Linked DNA regions of Homo sapiens: regions 1, 2 and 4 are each linked to region 3. The links come from fine-mapping of genetic effects on gene expression. A gene starts in region 3. Each other region holds a variant in brackets. All regions are shown on one strand. Distances are from middle to middle.

What was found. PIP is the estimated chance that this variant, and not a neighbour inherited with it, causes the effect. A credible set is the group of variants that fine-mapping cannot tell apart.
Region 1: its variant is the best candidate, but not a certain one, in a credible set for the expression of NTSR1 in monocytes (TOPMed, PIP 0.76).
Region 2: its variant is the best candidate, but not a certain one, in a credible set for the expression of NTSR1 in spleen (GTEx, PIP 0.77).
Region 4: its variant is the best candidate, but not a certain one, in a credible set for the expression of NTSR1 in whole blood (INTERVAL, PIP 0.67).

The regions. Positions count from the first base shown.
Region 1 is chr20:62,674,641-62,679,784 of GRCh38, reverse strand. It overlaps a transcript of SLCO4A1 not described here. Among named protein-coding and RNA genes, the nearest start is that of SLCO4A1-AS1, 11 kb to the right of the region's middle. The variant C/G (reference allele first, on the strand shown) is at 3,236.
Region 2 is chr20:62,683,987-62,689,130 of GRCh38, reverse strand. It overlaps a transcript of SLCO4A1 not described here. Among named protein-coding and RNA genes, the nearest start is that of SLCO4A1-AS1, 20 kb to the right of the region's middle. RefSeq lists enhancers at 4,550-5,092, 5,093-5,144. The variant C/T (reference allele first, on the strand shown) is at 2,584.
Region 3 is chr20:62,706,617-62,711,760 of GRCh38, reverse strand. NTSR1 (neurotensin receptor 1) reads right to left here and starts at 2,925. Exons shown (of 4, transcript NM_002531.3): 1 at 1,840-2,925. The coding sequence starts at 2,553. RefSeq lists enhancers at 1,634-2,178, 2,179-2,725, 2,935-3,447, 3,448-3,961.
Region 4 is chr20:62,726,432-62,731,575 of GRCh38, reverse strand. All of the region lies in intron 1 of NTSR1 (neurotensin receptor 1), which reads right to left. It overlaps NTSR1-AS1 (NTSR1 antisense RNA 1), which reads left to right. Exons shown (of 2, transcript NR_199009.1): 2 at 1-1,646. Among named protein-coding and RNA genes, the nearest start is that of NTSR1-AS1, 6.4 kb to the left of the region's middle. The variant G/A (reference allele first, on the strand shown) is at 2,626.

The DNA of each region.
Region 1 (5,144 bases), 32 kb after region 3:
GTCCTTTCATTAATTTAAGAATCCTTTACCACCTGGAGAATCTTGGAATGAGAAACAGTGTTTTTGATTTTATTTTTTAAGCTATTGTGCAGTAAAACTGGCTTGTAAAAAGTGATTCCATAAACCAGGCATGGTGGCTCACATCTGTAATCCCAGCACTTTGGGAGGCCAATGCAGGAGGATCGCTTGAACTCAGGAGTTCGAAACGAGCCTGGGCAACATAGCAAGACACCCTATCTACAAAAAATACAAAAATTAGCTGGGCGTGGTGGTTATGTGCCTGTACTTCCAGCTACCTGGGAGGCTGAGGTGGGAGGATCACTTGAGACCAGGAGGTCAAGGCTGCAGTCAGCCATGATTGTACCACTGCACTCCAAGCTGGGTGGCTGAGGGAGAATGTGTATCAGAAAAAAAAAAAAGGAATTTGATGAGTTTTGACACATGTATGGATTTGTGGAACCACGTCCACCGTCAGGACACAGATAGCTTCATGACCCAGAACCACGTCCACCATCAGGACACAGATAGCTTCGTGACCCAGAGCAGCTCTGCCATGCTACTTTTTTGTTGTTTGTTTGTCTGAGACAGAGTCTTGCTCTGTCGCCCAGGCTGGAGTGCAGTGGTGTGATTTCGGCTTGCTGCAGCCTTTGCCTCCCAGCTTCAAGCGATTCTCCTGCCTCAGCCTCTGCAGTAGCTGGGATTACAGGCATGCTAATTTTTGTATTTTCAGTAGAGATGGGGTTTCATCATGTTGGCCAGGCTGGTCTCGAACTCCTGACCTCAAGTGATCTGCCTGCCTCGGCCTCCCAAAGTGCTGGCATTATAGGCGCGAGCCACCTTGCCCAGCCCCATGCTACTTTTAAAAGCCACAGTTTCCTCTCCACCCCAGCCCCTGGCAACGGCTTGTCTCCTCTCCATCCCTGCAGCTTTGCCTTTTGGAAGCTGTTGTGTAAGTGAAACCACACACTACTAACCTCTGGGGTCTGGTTCTTTTGCTCAGCGTGGTGCCTCCCAGGTTCGTCCCTGTTGCATATTAACAGTGCCCCCCTCTCACGGCTGAGTCTATCGTGTGGCTGTACGACTATTTATCCTTTCACTTCCTAGAGGACATTTGGGTGGTTTCCAATTTTGTTGATGATTGTGAAAATTCGCTTGAACCCGGGAGTAAGAGGCTGCAGTGAGCTGAGATTGCACCACTGCACTCTAGCCTGGGTGACAGAGCAACACCCGGTCTCAAAAAAAAAAAAAAAAAGAATAGCGCTGTAAGAAACATTTGTGTACAAGATTTTGTGTGAACATAATTTTGCCTTTCTCTAGGAGTGGAATTTCTGTGTTATAAGAAGGTTCAGGTCTAACTTTATAGTAAACTGTCGAGCTGGGTTCCCGAGCGGCCGTATTGCTCTCCACGTCTACCGGCGACGGGTGAGTGTTCCAGCCACCAGAGTCCTCATCAGCACTTGGCATTGTCAACAGCTTTCTTTTAAATTCTGTTAAGTCCTGACTTCTTTAATTTTATCTAAATTTTGCTTGAAAACTGAAGTTAAACAAAACCCTCTCTTCTCCTTCTTATGCACAGCTGCAATAAAGCCTGCTGGCGTTTCTGCCTGGAGTCGCCGCTCGCCCAGGGCATCTGCACGTTTTCTGCCTCTGTGTCCCTGCAGGCCACAGCGCTGCATAACCTACTGTTCCTGTCTTCTGAGGTTTTCCCTTCCTCCAGCTTCCATCAACCTTTGCCTCACTTTCTTTCAAGCCTTTACTGACAGCAGAGGCCCTCAGGCTGAAAACAGCATCCTTACTTCTTTCCTTCCCAAATCTGCAGGTGTGGCTAGGTGGGAAGGGCTGATTCCCTCCCCTAAGGGGAAGTGGGGACAGAGAGCCCAGCTGGGGACTGGAGCACCCAAGACGGCACCCCCATCACGGCGGACTCGGCCTGGCTGACAGCTGGTGCCAGAGCGGGGGCTCCCATGACCTGGGCTTGCTCACAGCGTGGCGCTGGGTTCCCAAGTTGAGCGTTCCCAGAAGGCACTGCCAGTAGAAGCTGTGTCACCTCTGCCACGAGGCACTCCCAATCGCCTGCCAGGCTCAAAAAGAGGGTGCACAGACCCCACCTCCAGCAGAGGAAATGGGACATATTGTGGCCGTTGTTGGAAAATATCTGCCTCAGTGGGGTTGGAGTGCAGGTCTCTACGCCCCCTTCCTGCCTCCTGCCATCCTCTGCTCAGTGGGGTTGGAGTGTAGGTCTCAAGCCCCCTTTCTGCCTCCTGCCACCCTAAGGAAGTGAGCAGGGAGGGAGATTGTGGTACATCTGAACATGGGGCCCACACATGCTCTCCTGGCAGAGTTGCAGTTATGGAACAGACACCAGAAAGTTATGGAACAGACACAGATCCCCCAACAGATCTCCATGGTCTACAGGAGTGAAAGCACAGGGCAGGCAGTCAGCGATGAATGCATGGATGGATGTATTTAATAATAGCTTTACTGAGATATAAGTCACATCCCCAAATATTCACCCTTTAAAGTGTACAATTCGGTTTTTTAAGCATGTTCACAGAGTTGTGCAACCATCACCGTTATCTAACTCCAGAACATTTCATCACTGCACCAAAACGCCCTGCACCCATGACAGTCGCTCCCGCCTCACCTTCCCCCAGCCCCTGGCACCACTAGTCCATTTTCTGTCTCTACAGATTTGTCCATTCTGGACATTTCTTACAAAAGAATCACAAAACACGTGGCCTTTTGTGTCTGGCTTCTTTCACTGAGCATGTTTCAAGGTCCATGCGCACCTGCACACCATAGCGCAGGGCTTCATTCTTTCTGATTGACGGCCAAGCAAGACCCACTGTGTGGACAGCCCACGCTGATTTACCTACTCATCAGCCAGTTGACATTCGGGCTGGTGCACTTTTTGACTGTTATGAGCAACATTGCCGTGAACATTTGTATGCATGTCTTTATGTGGACATATGTCTTCATTTCTCTTGGGTAGATACTAGGTGTGGAATTGCTGGGTCATCTGCTAATTCCATGGTTAACTTTTTGATGAACCGCAAAACTGTTTTCCAAAGCGGCTGTGCCATTTTACCGTTTTACATTCCCACCCATAGTGTGTGAGGATTCCAAGTTCTCCACGACGTGTCGTTTTCTGGTTTTGTTTGTTTGTTGCTTTTGTTTTTGATACGGTCAGCGCTGTGGCTTTGGTTTGCACTTCCCTGAGTGGGAAAATCTTGAG[C/G]ATCTTCTCCTGGGCTCGTTGGCCTTTTCTATGTCTTTTGTGATGAAATAAAAGTCAAATCCTTTGCCCATTTTTAAATTGGATCATCCTTTCATTGTTGGGTTGTAGGAATTCTTCTTATTATTATTTTGAGAAAGAGTCTCACTCTGCCACCCAGGCCAGAGTGCAGTGGCACATTCATGGCTCACGACAGCCTTGACCTCCCAGGCTTAGGCGATCCTCCCACCTCAGCCTCCCAAGTAGCTGGGACTACAGGCGCACGCCACCATGCCCGGCTAATGTTTTGTATTTTTTTTTTACAGAGACAGGGTTTCGCTACGTTGCCCAGTTTGGTCTCAAGCTCCTGGGCTCAAGCGATCTGCTTGCCTCAGCCTCCCAAAGTGCTGGGATTATAGGCGTGCGCTGGCGAGCCGGCCGAATTCAGTGATAATTTTTAAATGCACAGAAGAATAAGAGGAACTGGTCCAACAACCAGAAAATTTGACGTTTCCAGCTGCTCCTGGCGTCTGACTCTTGAAGAACATTTAGTGCACAGCACACAGGAGGCCCCCGCAGCCCTCATCCCAGCAGCCGTGGAAAATCTCTCGAGGGAAAACCAAGTGGGCTTGGAGGACTCCTGCCTGCCTCTCCCTCTCCCAGGATGCATGTCTTTCTCCTCCCCACAGGCAGCCGGGCCCTGTGGCCGGCACCTTCCTGGCTAATCCCAGGGGCTCCTCCCAGGACGTGGGAGGACAGGGGCTGGCTGTGGGAGGCATCCAGGACCCAGGCCAGCATGCAGCCGAGGGCGTATCCAGGGCCCATGTGCCCACCAGGCTGGGTGCGCCCGTGATCCCGGAGAAGCGGGGGGCCTGTGTGGGCATCTGCAGATGCCTTCTGGCCTCTGTGGCAGGGCCAGGAGCCACACGCTCCCTGCACTGAGTCACACAGAGGCTGGGTCATCAGGCCTGGGGGGCTGGGGCCGGGACCAGGCTGCAACCAGACTGCTTCCTCTCTGCCCCTGTGTCCCAACTGTCCCTGTCAGCCATCTGCTCCTGTCTCCTCCCTGGGCCTGAGTCAGAGCCAGGCGGATTGTCAATGGGGAAGGCAAGGGGAGCTTAGATCGAGGCGAGGGCAGCAGAGCTCAAGAGCTGCAGAGACCCCGCAGCTCTTGGGAGCTGCCTGAGGGGTGGCAGAGCCCGCGTGGGTGGCCGGCAGCCCGGGCTGCCCACTGGAGGGGCCCTCCTGGACCTGGGAAGGGAATCTGGGCTTGGTGGCCTCATCCATCACGCACCACGAAGTCTCACTGCCGGCAGGGAGATGGATGCCTTGCAATGCCGATGAGCAGCCCAGCATACACCCAGTCGCTTTGGGGGCCGCTCCCTGGAATACCTGCCCTCCATCCTGGGCGGGAGCCTCCACTGTGTGCCCTGTGCGAACATGCTGGTCCTCTTCCTTCCCTCTCTCTGTCCTCTCTGCAGCTCGGGGCGTTTCTCTTCCTTCCTGGCATCCAGGGTGGGGGCAGGGCATGGAGCGGGACAGTCCTTGGAGCCCCCAGACCGGAGTCGAAACTCTACAGCCTCCGTCAGCTCGGCGGCCATCACAGAACCATAGCTTGGCGGCTCAAACAACGGACGTGCCTTACCCACATTCTGGAGTCCCGAAGCCCACGAGCAAGGCTGGGCTCCCAGGGAGGGTCCTTTCCTTGGTCTGCAGACGGCTGTCTTCTAGTCGTGTCAGCACATAGAGGAGAGAGGAGCTTGGTCTCTTCCTCTGTTACAGGGCTACGAATCCCATCGGGGGGCCACCCTCACCCCCTCATCTCACCCTAGTCACCTCCCTGAGGTCCCAGCTCTTAACACCATCACACTGGGTGCTGGGGCTTCGACCTACGAACTGGGGGATGCTGTCAGTCCACAGCCCCTGCCTCTGC
Region 2 (5,144 bases), 23 kb after region 3:
GAAAAATGGGATGAGGGTTTGGAGATGAGGGCCTGACTTGATTCCTTAGAGACCGTCCATTTATGGGAAAGAATGGGGCGCCTCCGGCCACCTGCTGGCTCCAAGACTAACCACAGGAGGAAATGTCAGAGGAAATTAACTGTGCTCGAGCTTTTGTGATGAGCCTGATTTTCCAGCTTCTAGAAAGCTGTGCTTCCATGCTGAGGCTTGTACTCGTTCGGTTTATTGGGAAGAATTAAAGGGCTTCTCGGAAAATGTTAATGTCTCCTTCCCACCAGCCTGGCCACCCCAGCTTCCCCCAGGCCCTGAAAGTTAGGTCTCCCCTGTGTTTGGTGCTTCTGACATTGCAGAGGGACTCCTTCCTCCTGGCAGCTCTGCCTTCAAGCCCAGAAAGCCATTGCTGGACACAACCCAAGTCAGGGGACCGGGTTTGCTGGAGTGGGTGGCAGGGGGCATGCATCCCCCACCCCAGCCATCTGCTGGCTCTGGAGCCCTGCTCTCACCCAGTTGGTGTCTCCTGGGCCCTGCGTCCATTCCATTTTGCCTTCAAAAGCCTGAGCTGCTGCTCTTACTCACTCAAGAGAGCCTCCAGTGTCCAATGTGAGCCCCAAACCCCGAGAAAATATAGGCAGAATTGTGTTTGCTGTGTGCACACAGACTGAGCTTTTGCTTAAGAACCTGGTGGGGCTACAGGTGAGCGGGGTTGGGGTGAGCAGGGTCAGGGGTGAGTGGGGTCATTGGTGCACGGGCAGGGTTGCACAGGGCTGGGGGGTGCATGGGTAAGTCCTAGCACTGAGTGGTGTAGGGGGCAGCCTCCCTCCCAAAGAGGCCTCGTGGGGGGCCGCGGGCAGGACCTGGGCGAGGTGTTCTCGTAGGGACCCCAGGGATCCTCCTTGCCCTCTGGGATGGGCTATCTCTGCTGCTCAGTGGACGCCCAGCTTCTGCGGCTTGCATATGGGGTGGCGTGTGAGTCAGCCCCTTCTATGTATGTGTGCACGTGTGTGTGTGTGTAGGTCTCTTATGCTGCTGAGAGCCTGGAAGGCAATGAAGTTGGTGGTGCTGGGACCTGGAAAGCAATGAAGCTGGTGGTGCTGGGACCTGGAAAGCAATGAAACTGGTGGTGCTGGGACCTGGAAGGCAATGAAGCTGGTGGGGGTGGGTAAGGCCCGGGGGTGGCTGCAGCGCGGCACTAGTGCCTGGTAGGACATGGCCGGGAGGTGAGTGGGGATCCCCTGGGGTACCTTTTCCTGCACTCCCATGTGCTCAGGGATACCCCTGAGGCTCGGAAGGCAGGTTGGGCCATGGCTGCCCTGGAGGCTGTGCTAGGCTGGCAGCCTAGTGGCCACGCTGACGACATGGGACCCGCGGCCCCAGCAGAGGTACAGGGAAGCCGGTGTCGTCCTTCCGTGTCCAGGAGCGGCCCCCCACAGCCCGTGCACCCCGAGGTGTGGCTTAGGCCCAGCCCTGCCCTTGGGGCGCAGAGTCTGGCTGGAGAGGCCCACCCAGAGCGGGGGATGGCAGGGGCCTCCCAAGGGACCTCCCCCTCTCTGGCTCAGAGGCTCTGCCCCGTGCGCTGCCTCCTGGCGTGGCCCTTGCCGGGCTCATTGTGTGGGTGCCAAGTGCTCCTCAGATGGTTGGTGGAAGGACGTGTCTCTGCATCCCGCCCGGATGACGCACCTGCCCTGCCCTGGACGCCACTGCGTGGTTTCTTCCGCCTCCTTGGCCTGCTGGCTCCTCCCCGGGCCTCGGCTCAGATGGCTCTTCCTCCACATGCCCTTGGCCTTCAGTGTAGACGCCCCAGGGTGGCCACTGTGTCTCCCGTGGCTGTGTGGCGTTTGGTCAACTTCATGGACCTTTGGAACAACGTGGGGCCAGGATTAGGAAGCTGCTGCCACTTGCCTTCAGAGGCCCCCGCTCCTGTTTGGGGGTGCCCTTTCCATCGCTCCTGTTTGGGGGCGCCCTTTCCATCGCTCCTGTTTGGGGGTGCCCCACCCATCGTGCCTGTTTGGGGGTGCCCTTTCCCATTGCTCCTGTTTGGGGGTGCCCTTCCCATCGTGCCTGTTTGGGGGTGCCCTTTCCCATTGCTCCTGTTTGGGGGTGCCCTTCCCATTGTGCCTGTTTGGGGGTGCCCTTCCCATCGTGCCTGTTTGGGGGTGCCGTTCCCATTGTGCCTGTTTGGGGGTGCCCTTTCCCATTGCTCCTGTTTGGGGGTGCCTTTCCCATTGCTCCTGTTTGGGGGTGCCCTTCCCATTGCTCCTGTTTGGGGGTGCCCTACCCATCGTGCCTGTTCGGGGGCACCCTTTTCATCTGCCTGCAATGGGCGCCCTGGCCAGCCACCCCTTCTCTGTGGTGCTGGGCACTCTGATACTCTCTTCCTGTCTCTGCACCGTCCAAACCTGCCCTTGGTAAAATAGCTGATATACTAATTCAGACTAAAGGGCCAACCATGGCTAAGACTTAGTGTACTCTCCTTTTCTTTTCACCTTATAATAAAATATTTTTAAAAGAAAGAAAACAAAACCAAGATCTGACTCTGGAATGGTGTTCAGCTGGCAGGGAAGGTGTCTGGGGTCAGAGGGCCCT[C/T]GGGGGCTCAGAAACAGCAGGAGGGCCTGCTCTTTAGGCAGCTGCCGGCCCCTCCCCTCTTCCCCGCTCCTGGCGCCAGTGTCTTCTCACTCTGTCCCCGGCCCTTGGTGGAGCGGAGTTGCATTCATCCTGAAGCTTTAGGACATGACACTCAGTCACAACTGTGACATGAGAAGAACTGCGAGCTCCACGCCGCTCTGCGGTTGACTGTTGTCCTCAGTAAACAGGGAAGTGCCTGTCACTTCTCAGCTGGGGGGAGGAAGGCTCGTTTCCACCCGGTGCTTGGAGATAATGTCCTTATGAATAGCTATTTAGACACCACCTGCCATCCTGTACCAGGAGCTCCGCACTGGGGCGGGAGCTACACGGAGACACTCAGCTCATTATTCTGAGCCGTCTCCATGGGCGGCTGCACTCCCCAGGTACAGAGATTGCCCTGCCCAGATGGGAAGTGGCCGCGATAAACAGGAATGGACGCAGGGGCTCTCGGAGTCCAGAAGCCCCCCAGTCCCCGGAGGGTACCTTCCCCACACTGTCTTGCTAATTCAGCGGCTCTCATCATGGTATGTTCTGTCATCAGAGATGGGAGTGGCCAGGGAGGACTTGCTCAGCCATGGATCCACACCGAGGCTGTGGGGGCGCCTGGCTACCTGTTTACCAGCCCTGTGTCTACAGCTTGGAGGAGGACGGAGGGCTTCCTGGAGGAAGAAGCCGGGAAGCAGCTCTGCAGGTTTCACACCCCTTGCAAGGGCAGAATTCTTAGGAGGGCAGAACCCTTTATTTCCTTAGAACGGGCGCATCTGCACACTTATTATAAGATCTTAATTCTATATGAGTGTGCCATGCTGGGTTTCCCAGGTAGAGAATCCACCCCCTCCACTTCCGTTGTTTCGTCCACCTCTTTCGTGCCCTGGGCATCGGAAGCAAATGCATTCTCTCCCAGGAGAACACAGGCAGTCCACCCTCTAGAGAAAGCCTGCTCTGGAAGACGTTGTCAGAAAGCCGAGACTCCACATCCATCACGGCCTTGGTGAAAATCCAATTCAAGGAGATCTATGTGTAAGGCTCAGATGGGGTTTACAGCCTTCTAAATTCATTCTCTTCTTCCTTAAGAAAAAAACAACAAACAAAGCAAGAAAACAGCCCGCTTGGTCAGGCCACAGCAGAGTGGAAGGGAGCGGGTGCAGTTGCCCCACGAACCCACCCTTGGGCACCGACCAGCTGGGGAAGGTGTCGGGGGGCAGCCAGGGCAGCCAGGGCCCAGCCCCGACCCAGCCCCCACTCCCCACCACCCCCCTCCTCCTGCCCCCACACCCCGCTGCCACCCTCCCCTGCCCGCCTGCTTCACTGCACCCAAGGCCTGCCCGTGCCTCCCCACCACCCCCCTCCTCGGCAGCTGAGTGCCCTGCTCTGACCATGTGTGTTTTATGACCCTGGCTGGTCACACGTGCCCCAACCTCCATGCACTCCATGCACTGTGGCCTCACCCCAGACCCTTGGCCCCTGCTAATCCGCCCCATTACTGGTCTCTCTGAGGTGCTGCAGGAGCCCCTGGCGTGGCTGCCTGTGCATGCTTTGGCCGGGCCTTTCTGGGGAAAGTGGAGAGTAGACAGTGCTGCCATTCTCGCAGCTCTCGTTGCCCAGCTGGTGTGGTCGGGTCGTTGCTGCAGACTAAACTCACCACGGCCATGGGGTGGGAGGTGGAGCACGGGCTAATGAGGTCTTAATGAGCGACTTCCAGGTGTGGGGATTGCTGGGGTGGGGGCTGCCCTGATGAGTTATGGGGACCCCTGATCGCCCTGGCGGGAATGAGTGTGTCCAGGGCAGTGGGGGGGTTTGCTTGCACACTCAGGAAACTTGAGGGAGGGAGTGGGGGGATGAATGAGCTCGTGTCAGTGGCCTAAACTTAAATGACAGCCCAGTCCCTGGGATGCCAGGGAAAGACCCTCCCTAGGGACTGAACTGGTGCCAGGGTGGCCGGCCCTGTGCTGACAAGCAGTCTCCCCTGTGATTGTGGTGGGGGCATTGGACAAATCTAACCCCAGTGGATAGATGTTCTGGGGAGACCGGAGGCTCCCAGAAGAGGCAGCGTAGCCTGGTGGGGGTTGGCTGATGAGCTCTGAGGCCATCACGGGCCAATCAGCTCCTTGTGCCTCGGTTTCCTCACCTGTCAGGCAAAGGTGCTGATGGTTTTAGTGATTTAACAAACACATGTACTGCACTTCCTATAATCCAGGCACCCCAGCTCATCACCCCAGTGAAACTGAGACTGTGGTATCAGCCCCATTTCAGAGGGGAGAAACTGAGGCACAGAAAGGTTAAGTAGAACACCCAGGACCCCTGGGGCTGCCACATGCCCCTGGACCTCCCACTGCTGTTGGGGGATGAGTGTGTGTGGGAAGCGCGTGGTCACGTGAGATCTTTGCGTGAGCGTGTGTGGGAAGCGCGTGGTCACGTGAGATCGTTGCGTGAGCGTGTGTGGGAAGCGCGTGGTCACGTGAGATCGTTGCGTGAGCGTGTGTGGGAAGCGCGTGGTCACGTGAGATCGTTGCGTGAGCGTG
Region 3 (5,144 bases):
CCTGGCAGAGAGCCCACGCACGCGGGGAGGACACTTTCCGGGGGGCGGAGCCGAGCTGTCCTCACGCCCCTGTGCTTTTCGGCTGTTTGTTTTTGAGGACTGCAGGAGGCTGGTGAGCTCCTGGCCTTTTGCCAGGGGAGCAGGGGGATCGGGGTTCTGAGCGGGGGGATCGGGGATCTGAGCGGGGGGATCGGGGGTCTGAGTGGGGGGATCCGGGGTCTGAGTGGGGGCATCTCCTGGGTGGGCAGTGACAGCGCTGACCCCTCCACTGCCCACCTTCTGAAGGACTGAGTGGCTGTCGCCCCTGGGGCCCCTCCACGCGGACTGGGGAGAGGTTCCCCCTGGCCAATGCCAATCAAAGACAGGAGCTTGGGGAGAGCAGATAAAGCCTCAAAGGGAGGGAGAGGTCATTTCTCACTGTGTTTACCCCACAGGCCGTGCCTACTTCTGCCTCTGGTGAGGGGAGGGACTCTCGCCGCAGAAGCAAAGCAGCCCTGACTCACTGCCTGCCACCAGTGTCTGTGGGAGGGGCCTCCCCGAGATGGGACACCTGTAGCCACCAGTTCTATGTGCAGCCAGGGAGACTGGGAGCTCAGTTCTACCCTCCTCCACCCCCCAGCCCACCTGGGTGGTGGCCAGTGGAGGGTCAGTTAGGGCCCAGGGAGTGACAGACAGGTGACCCCCTGCCCGGCACTGCTGCCCTCACCCCCACCGGGCATACTGGCATACGCGGGGTGCCCAGGCAACTACAGAAGCTTAGCTGGGAGGCTGGCGATGCTGGTGTGTGGGGAGTTGGGGGGACAGCCAGCCACCCTGGCCCCTCTAGCTGGGCAGAGGTAGGCGACTCTGCCCGGATCCTTCACCCTCTGGCTTCCTTAGCCCACCAGAAATGGAGGAAACCCCACACTTCTAAGGCTGCTCATTTCCAAGATGCCTTTCAAAGTTCCCGACCGGCCCTGACTTCCTCCCTGGACACCAGCCTCCTGCTCGGGGCTTTGGTTTGATCAGCCCTCCCCTCCAGCACTGGAACCCCCCGTGCCACGAACCTCAGCCAAACTGATTCCCAAGGGGGCTTCCCACCCGCATTCCCACGGCGCTTTGCTCAGACCCTTGGAGGGCCCTTAGTCACTCGGCTCCAGTTTTACACACCTCACCACAACACCGCCGCCACACGCAGATCCTCACAACCTTCCCCGCAGAAACATCGTCCCCACCATCCCGCAATAATAGTGCCTGTGAGCCCTTCTATGTGTCAGGGGCCATGCAAACACTTCCCACGCGTCCTCTCTCCAATGCTCTACCTTCTGAGGTCAATGCTATCACTACCCCATCACACAGATGGGAAAGCTGAGGCTAAACTAGGAACTGGCCCAACACGGCATCAGGTTCTGTTCTGACTCCCAAGTTTGGGTCAGGGCAGGCAGCTGGGAGGCACCGGCAGAGCCAGTCTGGGGGCTTCTCTGCAGAGGAAGGAACATCACCTGTTGGTGGCACAGTCTTTTGAGAAGCTGATGAAAGTGTTACTCTTCCTTTGGAGACGCAGGTGCCAGCGCACATGTTTCCATTAGGCTTAAGGAATTCAGAGATGTCCGAGGCCCAGCCACCAACACCAGAGAGGTCACAGGCAGGGGCTCCATCCCCTCAACAGGAGGGAAGAAGATAGGGGCTGAGCCTGGCAACTCTGGAGCTGCCCCCAAGCTGCCCCAACCGCCTTCCCAGCCTCGCAGGAGTAGACTGTCTCTGTGACATCTCTCCCACTCCCTACCCAGAAGGCACACCACTGGCACTGCTTTTGGGGTGAAGGAGAGGGGAGCCCCGGGGCTGGTTACTGAGGCTCACCTGTATGACGACCTTGACGGTGGCAGTGTGGATGGTGGGGGTGCACACCAGGCCGCCGGCGTGCTGGCCGTCGGCGCTGCGGTTCTGCTCGCCCATGGTGAACAGCATAGGCACCGCCAGCAGGGCCGAGGCGAGCCAGATGGCGCTGATGAACTTCTTGGTGCGGCTTCGGGACATGAGGGTCTTGGCCTTGAAGGGGTGGCAGATGGCCAGGTAGCGCTCCACACTCAGGCTGGCCACGTTGAGGGCCGTGGCGTAGGTGCAGGCGTCGCGCAGGAAGTAGTAGCCGCGGCAGCCGGCGTCGCCGAAGGCCCAGGGGTGGTGCACCCAGATGAAGTTGTACAGCTCCACGGGCATGGCCAGCAGCAGGGTGAGCAGGTCGGACAGCGCCAGGCTGCCCAGGTGGTAATGCACCGTGCTCTGCAGGCTCTGCAGCGACTTCTTCCGCGCCAGCGTGAACGCCGTCACCGTGTTGCCCACCGTGCCCACCACGAAGAGCGCCAGGTACACGGCGGTCACCAGCACCTTGGAGTAGATGTCGGTGTTCACGTCCAGCTCGCTGCTGGGTGCCGCCAGGACGCGCTCCGACGCGTTGCCCGAAGCGTTGCCGAAGCCCGGGGCCAGCAGCGCCTCCTCCAGTCCGGCCTGCGCCCGCTGGAAGGGGTCGGCGGCCGGCGTGCCCGGGGTTCCCGGCGCGGAGCTGTTGAGGCGCATGGTGGGCGCTGGAGTCCGCGGCTCTGTCCGGCGCCTCCGGGGCTGGAAGTCCGGGCAGGAGTGGGCGCGTCTCAGGCGGGGACCGATGAACGGGAGCCCAGGGGAGGGCGCGTGGCGAAGACCAGCGGGCGCGCCGTCCAGTCGGGAAGCGCCAGACCCAGACGCGCCGCCCCGGGCTCCGGGCTCCGGGCTCCGCTCTCCTCCGGACTCCCAGCTTCCGGCTCCTAGCTCCAGAACCCGTGGTTCCTCGGGCTGTCTCCCGGCTCGGCGCTTGCCACGGGTTCCAGGTGCCTCCGATCTCCAAACCGCGCGGTTCCCCAGGCCCCCGAGGACAGCGCCCAGCCCGGCTCGGGCTGCGCGGGGCGAGCTTGTGGCGCCGGGAGGAGCGCACGCACTGCTGCCCGGGCGCGCTCCCCTCCCTCGCTCAGAATCTCCTCCCTCGCGCTCTCCGCGCACCCCAGCCCCGCACACCTCCCGCCGCGCCCGCGCCCTCCCGGCTCTGCGCGTCTCCACGGAGCCGGCGGCCGCGCGGCGCGCCCAGCAGTGGGGGGTGGCGGCGGAGGAGGGAGGCAGCCCCCGCCGCCATCCCCGCCCCGCCCGGGTGCAGCCTGGCGGGTCGCCCCCTCGCGCTCCCCGGGGCAGGGCGGGCTGGGGTGAGCGCTCCAGGGAACCAGGATTCCGAGCGGGCGCGGCGGGTATCGTGCACCAGACCCTTCCTGCCACCCTCTTCCCTGTTCTCCGCAATTTCTCGCACCGGCTAGGAAGGGAACTATGCACCTCCCCCAACCCTGGGCTCGCTCAGTTGGGGTGAGGGTGTATCCGGAGGGCAGGGAGGGAGGAAGCTCCCCGCTGGCAGGGCTGGGCGGCTGCGCAGCTGGTTGGGCCGACCCCCACTCCTGGGTGTCCACAGGGTGCCAGAAGCTGGGTGCCCAGGGGGCTCTAGGACCACTGGAGATTACATTTCTGGTGATTCCTTTTAAAATCTGGCCGCAGTCATGGGCGTGCCTGGTCTGTGAATGCGTATTTCTGGGATGTGCCCAGTGGAAATGGTGGGGGCTCAGGGCATAGTTATCACCTGGGGCAGGATGGCGTGAGGCAGTACCGAGGGACACCTGCAGGGGCTGAGGAGCTGAGGGGCTGGGTCCTGCAGAGGCCGGGAGCCACAGATGGTTTCATCAAAGTCTGGGGAGGGGTGAATGAGGGAGGGCAGAAAGCAGGTGCCCAGAGCAGCACCCTCCCCACTCAGGGCCCTGCATCTGGCACCCTGGGCTGGTCTCATGACGCTATGGGATGTGATGCCCTGGGCCCCTTATTACTGCCTGGATTTGTCATCAGAAGCCACCCTGAGAGCCTGCGCCCCAGCAGGATTTGGGAGAGGCAGCCCCAGCACGCATCCTCCCAGGCCCTGCAGGCTTTGCACACTCCCTCCCTCTGAGTGTCCTCACAGGGTGCCCCGGCCCCTGGCTCGGGAGCCAGGTGAGGGCAAGATTCCTGTCCTTTCCGTGTCCCCCCCAGCACCTGGTGGCACTGGCATAGGTGGCCAGGCACAAGCTTGCCCCCCCCTCCATGTCTGGGTTGCCCAGGGGCCCCCAGGGCACTACTGTCCCTTCTCTGGGCCCTCCCCGCCCCCTCCCCTGCTCCCTCCTCCCCAGAACCCCTGGGAGAGGTTGGGTAGAGCTGCTGCCCCATGTGTGCAGGGCTGGGAGGAGCTGCTCGAGTGCAGCCCAGGGAACCAGCCTGGCCTTTGTGCACATGGCTGGCTGCACCTGCTGTGCTGGGAGCAGGAAACCTGGGCAGGCTGGGGCGGGGGTCGCAGGGTGTTGAGGGAAGCGGGAGGCTGAGGAACCCCCTCCCGGGCCCGCCCAGCTAGGAGAATTCAAGGCTTCTGAGCCGGTGGCTGGCAGCGGGACTCTGTGATTATTCGTCCGTTCTCGCCCTGCTTTGGACTTCTCTGTTCAACCGGAGCCTGATACTCTTGTCAGGGGGCTGCAGCTCACAAACATCAGAGCTTAGAAATCTTGGCATCAAAGGAAACGCCAGTGATCCCTTTGCTGGAAGCCAGTAGATAGGATTGAATGTTGGCCCTGCTACTTCACATTTGGGCGAGTGTGCTTAGCGTCTCTGTGCCTCGATTGAGTCGTCTGTAAAATGGGAATAGCGGCTGAATGAAGGGCAGGGCTGTTACTGATGGGTCTCCACGGGGAATGAACGAGGTCGAATGGGCTGTCGGGTGTGAGGTGAGGTGTTCCATCCAACTAGAATAGGCTGGAGTAGGCCAGATTTGTCCTCTGGAAGACACGATTCACCAGTTAAGTACACAGGTTTTTTTATTTTTTTATTTTTTTTATTTGTTGAGATGGAGTCTCGCTCTGTCACCCAGGCTCGAGGGCAGTGGCGCGATCTTGGCTCACTGCAAGCTCCGCCTCCCAGGTTCTCGCCATTTTCCTGCCTCAGCCTCCCGAATAGCTGGGACTACAGGCGCTAATTTTTTTGTATTTTTAGTAGAGACAGGATTTCACCATGTTAGCCAGGATGGTCTCCATCTCCTGACTTCGTGATCCACCCGCCTTGGCCTCCCAAAGTGCTGGGAT
Region 4 (5,144 bases), 20 kb before region 3:
TTATAGATAATAACACATTTTATTTAATATAAAATACAAGATAATAAAATTTCTAGGTAATAAAATCTAGGTATCTTGGGTATAAAATCTAGGTATCTTGGGTTTGGCAATGAGTTTTTAGATGCAACATCAAAAGCATAATCCACAAAAAAAATGAATAAGCTGGACTTCATTAAAATTAAGAAATTACACGGCTGGGCGTGGTGGCTCACACTTGTAATCCCAGCACTTTTGGAGGCCAAGGCGGGTGGATCACCTGAGGTCAGGAGTTCAAGACCAGCCTGACCAACATGGAGAAACCCCATCTCTACTAAAAATACAAAATTAGCTGGGCATGGTGGTGCACGCCTGTAATCCCAGCTACTCGGGAGGCTGAGGCAGGAGAATCACTTGAACCCGGGAGGCGGAGGTTGTGGTGAGCCGAGATTGTGCCATTACACTCCAGCCTGGGCAACAAGAGCGAAACTCCGTCTCAAAAACAAAAAAGAAAAAACAAAAACAAAACAAAACAAAAACGCTCTAAAAATGACACTGTTAAACGAATGAGAAGACAAGATACAGCCTAGGAAAAAATATTTGCAAAATACTTGATAAAGGAGTGTTATCCAAAATATATAAAGAACTTTTACAACTCAACAATAAGGAAACAAACATGAAGAAATGGGCAAAACATCTGAATAGACACCTCATCAAAGAAGACGTAGCAATGGAAAAATAAGCACAAGAAAAATGCTCCACATCATATGTCATTAGAGAAATGTCGATTAAAACAATGAGATCAAATGAGAATGGCTACAAAAACCAAAACCAAGATCCTGACGACACCAAACGCTGGCAAGGCTGCGGAGCAACAGAACCGCCCTCACCCGTGGCTGCTGGGAATTCAAAATGGCGCAGCCGTGCTGGAAGGCACTTTGGCAACTTCCTACAAAGCTCAACGTATCCTTACCACGTGTTCCAACGATCGCCCTCCTTGGCATTTCTACTCCCAAAGGGGTGAAAGCCACACAGAAACCTGCACATGTATGTTTATAGCAGCCTTCTTCATAAATGCCAAAAACCAAGATGTCCATCAATAGCTGAGTGAATAAACAAGCTGGGGGACATCCAGATAATGGAATATTATTCAGCCGTAAAAAGAACAAGCTATCAAGCCATGAAAAGACAGGGAGAAACCTCAACTACATACTGCGAAGGGAAAGAAGCTGGTCTGAAAAGGCTGCATACGGTATAATCCCAGCTGTGTGACGTTCTGGGTAAGACAAACTGGAAAGACAGTAAGAGGATCAGTGGGTGCCAGGGGTTGTGGGGAGGGAGGAATAAACAGGTGGAGCTCCAAGGATTTTTTCGGGCAATGAAACTCTTCTGCAGGATCCTGGGATGGTAGATATAGGACATTACACATTTGTCCAAACCCACAGAAGGTACAAGACTGATGAACCCTAATATAAACTGCAGACTTTCCTTAATAATGTATCAATATTGGCTCATTAATTGTAACAATGTACCACACTAATGCAAAATGTTAATAACAGGGAGACACCTGTTATTAACAGGTGAGGGCCAGGAGACACCATGGAGCCGCTGTCCTGTGGGCTCAACGCTTCTCTACAACTGTTCTAAAAAATAAAGTCTATTAATAACAATTTAGATGGCCAGGCATGGTGGCTCAGGCCTGTCATCCCAGCACTTTGGGAGGCCGAGGCAGGCAGATCACTTGAGGTCAGGAGTTTGAGACCAGCCTGGACAACATGGTGAAACCCTGTCTCTACCAAAAATATAAAACATTAGCTGAGGGAGGTGGCGGGCTCCTGTAATCCCAGCTACTCAGAAGGCTGAGGCAGGAGAATCACTTGAATCTGGGAGGTGGAGAGCTGAGATCGTGCCACTGCACTCCAGCCTGGGTGACAGAGCGAGACTCCATCTCAAAAAAAAAAAAAAAAAAAAAATTAGAAACCCCTAGCCCCAAGTTCTAGGTCTCTGCCCTGGAGATTCTGATCCAGTTGGTCTGGGGTGAGCCTTGGGGTCTGCATTCTGGAAGCACCCCTGGGGGAGATTCCTGAGGCTATAAGGCTCTGAGCTACACCTGTGTCACCTGTGTTTCCCTCTCCTCCCCTGAGGGCCCACCCTCCATCCATCACCTGCACCACAATCCCTGTCTCAGGCTGTGCTTCTGAGGACTGCCCCCGCTCCATGCACGAAAGAAATTCCAGATCTTTCCATTCTCCCTTTGTCTCATCTCTCCCCAGTGGGCTGGAAGCCACAGAGCCTGTGTTGAGCAGGCCACCCTGGGGCTCCCAGGGAGCTACTCTCTCCCCACCCTGCCCTCCTCCCGGAGCCCCCAAGTTGGGAGGAGTGGCTTTGACCATGCAGATAGCCACTCCTGGGGGCTGCAGGCACAGCAGAGAAGCAGACTTGGGTGGATCTGTGGGTGTCAGGCATTTGGGACATGCCGTGAGTAAGTGTGTCTGGATACAGCTTCAGTCTCAGGTTTAGCTCCCTGCAGGGCACGAGCCCCTCAGGTGTGCACAGACCGAGGACTGGACATCCATCTCTTGGCTCTTGCCAGCAGCTTCTTCTGAGTGTCGCCGGAAGGGCTGGGTGGGGTCAGGGGACAGTCTTAGG[G/A]TCCCTTTCCAACTCAGCATCTCCGGCTTCCTTCAGAAAAGAATCTACCCCAAGACCCTTCTCAGTGTCCTGAAGCCCCTCTGTCTGGAGCGAGGACTCCACTGAGGGCCGGTTCTGGGTGCAGGTGACAGAAACTGGGTGGGCACCTGGCTGGGCTGTCCAGGTGACCTGGTGGACGTGCCTCTGGCGTTTGGCAGAAGTGGCTGCCGTGAAACCTGCTTGGCCTCCGGGTGTTGGCCTGCCCTTCGCGACTCAGTTTCCTTTTCCTTCCCCTTCCTGAGCAATGCTGGCACACACAAAGAAAGCCCAGCTGTGCACACAGCGTCTTCCGCAGACACCGTGGCCCAGCCTCCGGCAGGCAGAGAAAACCACAAACGGCCTCCACTTTCACCGAAATGGAAGCAGCCTTGCCAAGGGGATGTTAAGAAATGAACTTCTGCCATTTTTAGAAACTGAACAGTAAAAATCCCCGGGAATGAAGCTGGTGCTGGAAACGGAAGCTCCGTCCCCTCCTGCGGGGACGTCTGTCTGTTCATCACCAGTAGTGTCTGCACCCACCCAGCTCCACCCCCTCCTCAGGGTGGGGCTGCCGCACACACTGACCGCAGGGATGGGGAAACAGGGCTTCATGGAGGAGGTGACCCTGGGGTCCAGCTGAGTAGCCGGGGAGGGAAAGAGAGAGCACCGACCCCAAGGTACCCATCTCCCTCCTGTTGATCAAGGCTCGGATGCTGGGAGACTCGGGGGGACCTGTGCACCACTCCCTTCCCCTGACTTCAAAGCCGACTCAGCCCCTCCTCCAGGAAGCCCTCCCTGCTGTCCAGTCCACACCCCTCATCCACAAGGCTCGTCCTTGTGGTCATAAGGAGCCCCAGGAGGGGGAGTAAAGAGCCAGATGATGGGGCCGGGCCTAGACTGGCCCTTCCTTGGCCCTGCAGGCACCGTGGGCCTGGGGCAGCCCTGAGGCCTCGCTGGGTCCCCAGCACCATCTGCTGTGACAGGAGGTGAGTGAGTGCAGGCCCCAGGTGCTGGGTCGGCCCACGCCGGGAGCGCCGGGAACACAGGTCTGTCCCTTTGCCCACTTGGCCCCACCCTTGCCATGGCACCCATACCCGCCTGCCCTTGCTCTTCTCCCACTCTGGCCCTCGGCTGTGGCCCTGGTGGCCGCTGCTGTGCAGTTCTGAGGCCGGGGCCATTTGCTGATCCAGGGGCTGCTGCTTTCAGCCCACAGGTCCCCCTGCCACCACGCCAGACACAGGTTTTGTGATGAAACCTGTTTGTGGCTCAGGCACTCCCGCCTCCCCTCCAGGAAATCCACGTCCAGCCACCCTCTCTGTGCTATCCCCTCAGTCACCTCGATGCTGGAGGCGGAGGGCTCAGAGCCACTGCCCAGCGGCCGTACCACAGCGGACTCTCCTTAGACCGGTGCTGAGCCCGGCGGCCGGGCAAGGTGCAGAGGTGGCTCCAGACCCGCCGGCAGTCCAGCTGGCGCTATCTCTGGGGCAGAACCCGTGGCCCCAGGCGGTGACAGCCTGTGTGTTTTCAGTGTTCACTCCTCACTCCAGCTCACCTGTTCCTGGCACTCTGGGCTGGGACTTGCTGGGACCCCCCACTTCCACCCAGCCCTTGCTGCTCCCTGAGGGTGGAGAGGAAACCCTGTCCTCAGGCCCTGTGAGCCGGAGAGAGCGCATCTACGTGGTGACAGGTCTGTGGGGCCGGGGAGCCTGCAGGAGCCCGGCTCAGGGTGGGGGCAGTGCGGAGCCCTCACGGGCTCCTGTGTGGGGCTGGTGTGTCCTGCCCTGGCTTATGCAGGCAACCCGCTTCCCAGGCGGATGAGGCGGTCTCTCGGGGACTCCAGGAGGGCCTTGAGCCTTGGAACCAATGAAAACAGGTGATGCAGAAACCCTTCTCCTCCAGCTGTGCACCCCACAAGCTCTGGCAAGGACCCCTTTCATCCAAGGCCACGGTTGTCCACAAAGCAGTTTCCAGATGGGGCTCAGAGGACAGGTGCACCTGCCGTCACCTGGTTCTCAAAACCATCCCAGTGTGGATGGGGCCACATTGGAATCCTGGGCAGGAAGTGCCCGTCCTGTGAGCATCTTGGCCATCTGTAGCCTTCTCCACTAACGCGGCCGGGGCCAGGCTTGTCTTAGGTGCCTGTGCCTCGGGGAGCATGGACCTGTTCCTCCTCACCTAGTAAAATGAGAAAAGCACTCCACAGTTGTGAAGCCATTCCCACCATTTTTTTTTTTTTTTGAGACAGGTTCCTGCTCTGCCGTCCAGGCTGGAGTGCAGTAGTGCCATCACGACTCATTGCGGCCTTGACCTCCCAGGCTCAAGCGATTCTCCTGCCTCAGCCTCCCAGGCAGGGGCCACAGGCACCAGCCAGCATGCCCAGGCAATCTCAGCATCCTAAAGCCTGCTATGCCTGGGATGGCTGATTCTCCTGGGGACCGGTGGGCAGGCAGTGGGGATGCCGTGCTAAGCGAGGTCCTGCTGGTGCCTCTTGGGTTTCCTTT